2 linked regions of the Homo sapiens genome follow. The protein of the gene in region 2 interacts with the protein of the main gene of each other region in a pairwise test. Each region holds a gene or a part of one and is shown on either strand. Other genes may lie near its edges.

Region 1 (3,924 bases), on a different chromosome or scaffold from region 2:
TTAGCTCACTGCAATCTCTGCCTCCTGGGTTCAAGCGATTCTCCTGCCTCAGCCTCCCAAGTAGCTGGGATTACAGGCATGCACCACCATGCCCGGCTAATTCTGTATTTTTAGTAGAGATGGGGTTTCTCCATGTTGGTCAGGCTGGTCTTGAACTCCCAACCTCAGGTGATCTGCCTGCCTCGGCCACCCAAAGTGCTGGGATTACAGGTGTGAGCCACCACGCCCGGCCAACTCTTGGCTTTAAGCAATCCTTCTGCATCGGCCTCCCAGAGCAAAACAGTTTTAAGACATTTCAATGGACAAAAACAGTATTGCACATTCAATGGTTGTAATGATTTGTTCTTCCCATATTCGTGTGGTTTAAATTTTATTTTATACTCACTAAAACTTATTTCTTTTCTGGTTGAAGAGGTTTAGAAATTTAACAAAATTTTACTGAACTGTAACAGTATTATCATTTAAAAAAAAGTATTTATTGAGCAAATATATGTGGTAGACCTAAGCGTAAGTTATTATTATTGGCAAATATGCTCCAAAATAATTACGTACCTGTTTTGATATTGAGAGGAATTGGTTCAACAATACCACCCCCTTAAAGAGAATGAATACAAACTATTTTAGAAAATTTTCCTCAAACTACAGAACAGTATAAGTATGCAACTTTACAATGCTCTATGCATATGCCCTCCTGTTTCAATGATATTCAAAATTGAAATCTGAACATCTATATATATTCTATATATAATCAATTATCTACCTTGTCTTCAAATACCTACTCATCAAAAAGGCTGATTCACAGCCTCCTATGCCACCTGAAGGTGGAGTTTTAAGAAGGAACAACACTGATATTATTGGTGCAAGACGGTGACAGCCTTAAGTGAAAGCAAAGCAATTACGATAAAGGAAAGAAAAACGGTTTACAGAGGTTACTATAAATATATAGCCTCTCTAGCTTAATAAGCAGTTTCACTTCCTAAAAAGAGAGGTGAGAATTGAGCCTCTCCAACTGGACGGTCATTCAGATGGCTGCCACAGGTACAGAGCAAGCAGGGCAAAGTCTTGCCATCATCCTCAGTGTTGTTTCAATGTATTTAGCCATTGCACTTCTCAACCCATCACTTATCACCATTCTTTGCTTCTTCTGTTGTAAGCCACATCCATCTAGGTTGTTAGTGCCTTCAGCTAAGCTGGGCTGATAAGCAGCTCTTGATGGCACATGTGGTATCTAAAATGGATGTGGGATGATGAAAAGCTCTCCATAAGGCTTGTTAATACATAATAGACTAAAAAGCCTAAGTTGTTATAATTTCTGTGTAGATAAAGATTAAAGCATCAGCTTTGGTCCTTATCCATAAGTCACAATTAGGTGGTAAGGAATACCTGTTTATTTCCACATGTGACTTACCACTCTTGCCAAGTGCCTGACCACTTTTATAGCCCATCTTTTGGAGCAAGGCAAACCCTTTGTTTTCACAGCCTAGTGCATTCTTCAACCCAATGTCACGTCTTTCTTGTTCTTCTTCTTTTAAACTCTTCTGCCTGTTTTTCAAATTGGCTTCCTGTTGCTTTTCTTCTTTTCGACGGGCTTCTCGGATTTGCCTTAGCATTGGCAATCCTGGTCTGATATCTTCTCTGAATAAGGGAAAAGTTTATTTTAGATGAGTCCATAAAGTTTTCTTTTCTTTTTTTTTTTTTTTATTTTTTGAGACGGAGTTTCGCTCTTGTTGCCCGGGCTGTAATGCAATGGCATAATCTTGGCTCACTGCAACCTCCGCCTCCTGGGTTCAACCGATTCTCTTGCCTCAGCCTCCTGAGTAACTGAGATTACAGGCGCCCACGACCATGCCCGGCTATTTTTTGTATTTTTAGTAGAGACGGGGTTTTGCCATGTTGGCCAGGCTGGTCTTGAACTCCTGACTCCAGGTGATCTGCCCGCCTCAGCCTCTCAAAGTGCTGGGATTACAGGCGTGAGCTTCCACGCCTGGCCAAGTTTTCTCATAACTCTGTCACTTACTCACCTGACAACAGTTAATATTTCGGCACTACCTCTATGATCATCTTTGTTATTATGATATTAGAACATAATCAGTGACCTCTAAGAATGGCTGTTTTAGTAGAAATGATGAAGGCTGGTGCCAGATCATAGGAAAATAAGGAAAGCACGAAGTTGAAGAAATCAGATATAGTAAGTTTAGACTTACTATGTTTCTAGGATGTTGGCAATAATAAAGAACAAAGTTGTATAGCAGCTAGAAGAGACAATATGATGTAATAAAGGAAAAGGAGTAAATTTCCTTGGAAGAAGGCAATAAAAAGGATCAAGGGCAAAAGTAAAATGGTTAGCATTAAAAGGAGGAAGTAGATTCTAGTATCTTTCTATGGTGACATAGGAGGTATTTCCATAAAGCAAGAAGACTGACTTTCCCACTGCACATTTAAAATCACTGTCAGGCTGGGCACGGTGGTTCATGCCTGTAATCCTAGCACTTTGGGAGGCCAAAGCCGGAGGATCGCCTGAGCCCAGGAGTTGGAGACCAGCCTTGGCAACACAGTGAGACCTTGTCTCTCCAAATAATAAAAAAGAAGAGTTAGCCGGGCATGATGGTGCAGGCCTGCAGTCCCAACTACTCGGGAGGCCAAGATGGGAGGATCTCCTGAGCCTGGAGAGTTTGAGGCTGCAGTGAGCTAAGATTGTGCCACTGCACTCCAGCCTTGCTAACAGAATGAGACCCTGTCTCAAAAAAATAAAATAAAATAAAATAAAATCAATGTCATTTCTTAATCTACACATCTTATACATATCATTGCACTGGGTGTGCACATTTACTTACTGGACATTAATGAAGGAATCAGACATATAGTCCTCTTCTTCTGCCATGTTCAACTTCATATGGCTATAGTATCTACAAATAAAGTAATAATTACTTTTTTTTTTAGTTTATCAGAATGGAAATAAACCTTTCTGTATCTGCAGCCATGAGCTGTCTCTAGAGCTCTACTATATATTCAAGTGCCCTTTGGACATCTTTATCTGTGGACATTTCAAACTCAACAATCTAAACAACTCATTTCTTTCCCCTTTCCCCAGCCTTCTACATCCCCTGTGTTTCCATGTTGATGTCATCATTATCTCCTTCTTCCTGACCTCTTATGAAGCTGTCAAGTCTTCCTCCATAAAACTCCTCACAGACGTTTTCTCTACAGTTGTGACCACTGCTTTAGTTCAGGCACTTTTTTTTTCTCACCTGAACTATTACAACAGCTTCTTAATCAGCTTCTTAGTTGGTCTCCTCTTCCAGTCCATTCTCTGCACCCCATCCAGAGGTTTTTTGTTTATTTGCTTGTTTGTTTTTAAATACAAGTCAGGTCACGTTACTAGCCTGTTTCAAATCCTTCATTAAACCTGACCCTGTAGGCAGTGGGGGACCAGTCACTTTTGCAAAGCATGAGATGTTGTCCTTCATAATCTGACACAACTGTCCCTAAGGATTCATTATTCAAGCCCCATGGCTCCTCACTGCCCTCTGAACAGAGTACAAACATTTCTTCCCTGTAGGCCAAGGCTACCCTCCCTTCAGAAACCTCTCCTGACCACTCCAGGCCTTTCTCTACAGCACTTTATGTCCAAGCTGCTCATTTGGAAGTTGATATAGTTAACAACTCACTTATGTGGAAATATTTTGAGGGACAGTTTCTATCCAAAATAGTTAAAATCATGTAATTATTGGCCCTTAAAGGGTTAAAGTAATTTTCTACAAAAGTACTTCTCAAACTTTATTGTGTATACAAATTGCACTGAGATCTTCTTAAAATGCAGAATCTGATTCTGGGGCTGGAACCTGAGGTTCTGCATTTCTAGCAGGTTCACAGGCAATGTCAATGTTGCTAGTTCAGTTGCTTAAGACAAAAGTGTATTCACTT
Region 2 (3,924 bases):
AGTGTTTCACCATGTTGGCCAGGCTGGTCTCAAACTCCTGACCTCAAGTGATCCACCCACCCTGGCCTCCCAAAGTCCTGGGATACAGGCATGAGCCACCACGCCTGGCCCATAAAAAAAATGTATAACTTTATTACCAATTATACATCCTGAATTTATGAATGAACTATACGGTTTATATTCATTACTTCTGGCCTCTACTTTCAACAATGTCAGGCTCATATTATCACTGATGCCTATAAGTATACAATAAATGATAAGTATGTTAATTATGAAACTAAGAATATGCTGCTATTATTCTGATAATCAATTAAACCATGTATATTAAAAGCAGAGATCACCTGATGAAAATGAGTTGATTACAGTAAACAATAAATTTAATTTTTAAGTGCTTTCTCAAGGAAGTTTTGCTAAATTCTAAAATTGAAAACCATAAAATTACCTAACATCAAGAATGTTAAAATGCGCATTACAGAATTAATATTTATTTCTGGGATTGAGCATCTTTTATATTCTTTTATTTCTACCTTTGTTACTTTATTTTCTGCAATAAGCAGAAACATTAAGGTAAAATTCCATAACATAACCTTAAGGTATCCAATTGTGTAAATGTTTGTGATAACTTTAGGCAATATTTTTCTTGCAGAGACTAGAACGACAGGTCCTTTACCTCCCAGGAACCTCCAGTCTAGGGGTCACTGTCACCTACACAAAAATTAAGAAAAAGTGGCTGCTTTGTATAATATGGTACTCTTGAGCTCTCTGCAAAGAAACCACAGGATAACCTAGATTGCTCCAACAACGTACCCTTCTAAAGGCACACTAGGAAACAGCAAAATTAGGTCACTCCAGGAACTTGAAGTTGGTGGATCAAAGACATTTCTCAGAGAAGATTCTCTATAAGAAATCGTGAATGCATACACATATCCTTGCTATGTGAGATACTACCATTAACAACTATTATCAGAACCTTAATCCATGTGGATAAATTCTTTGATAGCACCGTTTGGAGAAAAGGTAACTCTCACTGTCCAAGCTCTTACTACTTGTTACATGATCTCCAGGTCTCAAATGTATTAGAAAAACATAATATCCCTCACAATCTCAGCTCAGAAACCAGACACAGGTAGCAAGGATGTAATCTGTATATCGAATTATTAGTATGAGGACTGAAACAGGTTCTGGATAAATCTATCCAGGAAAGTGAAAAGATGTTAAGTTATTCAAGCAGCCAATAAAAAAAAAAATGCAATTCCCAAAAGTAAACGAGGAGTTTTAAAACCAAAATCCAAAAAGTAGTAATATACAAATGCCTTAGAGTTTTCCTATACTACTCCAAAAATAGTTAAATCTATTAATCAAAATCCAGTGTCAACAGCATTATCTCTTTTTGGAAACAAAATCTGATTAACAAATAAAATAAGGTAAAGTACAATAGAAGGATAGGAAAGCAATCAATGATTAATGTTGTGTTGATTAAACCATTGAGAAATTGTTAAAGAGGAGAAAAAGGAAACTTCTTGTAGCATAGAAAATAGCTCTAGGCCAGACATAGTGGCTCATGCCTGTAATCCCAACACTTTGGGAGGCCAAGGTGAGAGGATCACATGAGCTCAGGAGTTTGTGACCATCTTGGACAATATAGTGAGCCCTTGTCTCTAAGAAAATGTAAAATTTAGCCACACATGGTAGCATACACCTATAGTCCCAGTTACTTGGGTGGCTGAGGTGAGAGGATCACCTGAGCCCAGGAGGTCAAGGTTGCATTGAGCCATGATTGTACCACAACACTCCAGTCTAGGCAACAGAGTAAAACGCTGTCTCCAAAAAAAAAAAAAAAAAAAAAAAAAAGAAAATAGCCTGAGCTCGATACTATCAGATTAAGGAGTAATCATCACAGAATCACATATGAAAAACTGACATAAGAGTTAAGATTCTATATGACAAGAAAAAACAGATTCTCACAGTGTGGTTCAAGGACTTTGGGGTTTCCTGAGACCTTTTTCGGAGTCTCCGAGGTAGAAACTATTTTCATAATAATAGCAACACTATTTATCTGCTCTTTTCACTGTGTTGACATTTGTACTAATTGCAAAAGCAAAGGAAAGCAAAGGTGGGTAAAATTGATGGCACCTTAGTACTAATCAAGGAAGCAACATATATTAGTCACTGTATTCCTCACAACCACACACCAGCAGAAACAAACAAGGCAAATGGTTTCACTTAATAATGTCCTTGATAAAACAATAAATACTGTGTTAACTCTCAAGTACATGTCTTTCTAATATCTGTGACAAAATGGAAGATATACATAAATATGGCTACAACTGAAGTTCAATGGTTTTCTGAAGGAAAAGCATTTGTGTATCTGAGTTGTGAGCTAAACACGCTCCAAGCTCCTTTTTCATAGAACCCCACATTTTTTTTTTTTTTTTGAGACAGTCTCGCTCTGTCGCCCAGGCTGGAGTGCAGCAGCACGATCTCGGCTTACTGCAAGCTTCACCTCCCAGAGAACACCACTTTTTAAAAGAACAAATATGGCTAACTCAGACTTAGGTATTTGATAGAGATGTTTTCAAACATGAACAAGGTGAGCTTGTCACTTCAAGGAAAACTGAGAGCATTTATCGCCAATGATAAACGTTATGATTTCAAGTGGGAACTAGAATTCTGGAAAATTCACATCTACTACTGTGAACTTGATAGTTTACCAAGGCCTAAGTAATTTTTCTGATGAGATGATATTTATATTAATGAGCATGATTTAATGACAGTGTTCAATAAAACGTCAACATTTGGAAGACATAATTCAGGGAACCAATATTTACAAGCGGTAAATGCATGTTACAAAACTATACATACAAGACCCAAGTTAATTAACCTGGTTTCAGACCTACATTAAACATTACAACTAATCTTTAGGAAACTACAACTTATGTAGAGTTTTGGTATTGTATGGTATCAAAAAGAGAATATACACAATTATCTAAAAAGACTTTAAAAATATTCTTTTTATGTGAGGCTCGGTTTTCTTCATATACTTATTATTTTGAGAGAGGATCTCATTCTGTCACCTAGGATGGAATGCAGTGGCATGAAAATAGCTCACTGCAGCACTGACCTCCTGAGTTCAGGCTTCCACCTCAGCCTCCCAAGTGGCTGGGATTACACGAGCGTGCCTCAGCGCCTGGCTAATTTCTTCTTGAGACAGTCTCACTCTGTCACCCAGGCTGGTCTTGAACTCCTGAGCTCAAGTGATCCACCTGCCTCGGCCTCCCAAAGGGCAGGGATTACAGGCATAAGCTACTGCATCAGGCCCTTCATAGATTTTAAACAAAACAATACATTGCAAAAGACTGAATGCGGCCAGGCACGGTAGCTCACGCCTGTAATCCCAGCACTCTGGGAGGCCGAGGCGGTCAGATCACCTGAGGTCAGGAGTTCGAGACCAGCCTGGCCAACATGGCAAAACCCCGTCTCTATTAAAAAGACAAAAATTAGCCAGGTATGGTGGCACACGCCTATAATCCCAGCTACTGTAGAGACTGAGGCAGAAGAATTGCTTGAACCTGGGAGACAGTGGTTGCAGTGAGCAGAGATTGTGCCACTGCACTCTAGCCTGGGCAACAGAGTGAGAATCTGTCTCAAAACAACAGTAACAACAACAGTAACAACAACAACAACACAAAAAGACTGAATGCAGAAGCAAATGGTAATCAAGCTGTTTTCTCTTAAGCCAGACATTAAACAGATGTACAAAAACATAAAATGCCACTCTTTCATTCTTTTGAAAAGTTATTTTTCCTAGAAAATATTATTTTTAACATTTTAAAATAAAAATTTTTCAGTTCTAATGTCAAATACAGTGAAGATCAAAATAACTCATATTAAAAAAAGCTCTTGGGGTCCTCACTAATTTTTTAA

Evidence for each region.
Region 1: the proteins of DEK (region 2) and GPATCH11 interact in binary tests that used the Homo sapiens proteins (3 or more experiments, as listed by UniProt).

What each region holds. Positions count from the first base shown.
Region 1 is NC_000002.12:37,087,351-37,091,274, reverse strand, and holds part of GPATCH11 (G patch domain-containing protein 11), read right to left. Parts: intron 2,907-3,924; 5' UTR 2,894-2,906; coding exon 2,835-2,893; intron 1,636-2,834; coding exon 1,409-1,635; intron 595-1,408; coding exon 553-594; coding exon of another isoform or gene 549-552; intron 1-548.
Region 2 is NC_000006.12:18,250,685-18,254,608, forward strand, and holds part of DEK (protein DEK), read right to left. Parts: intron 1-3,924. UniProt on the Homo sapiens protein: Involved in chromatin organization.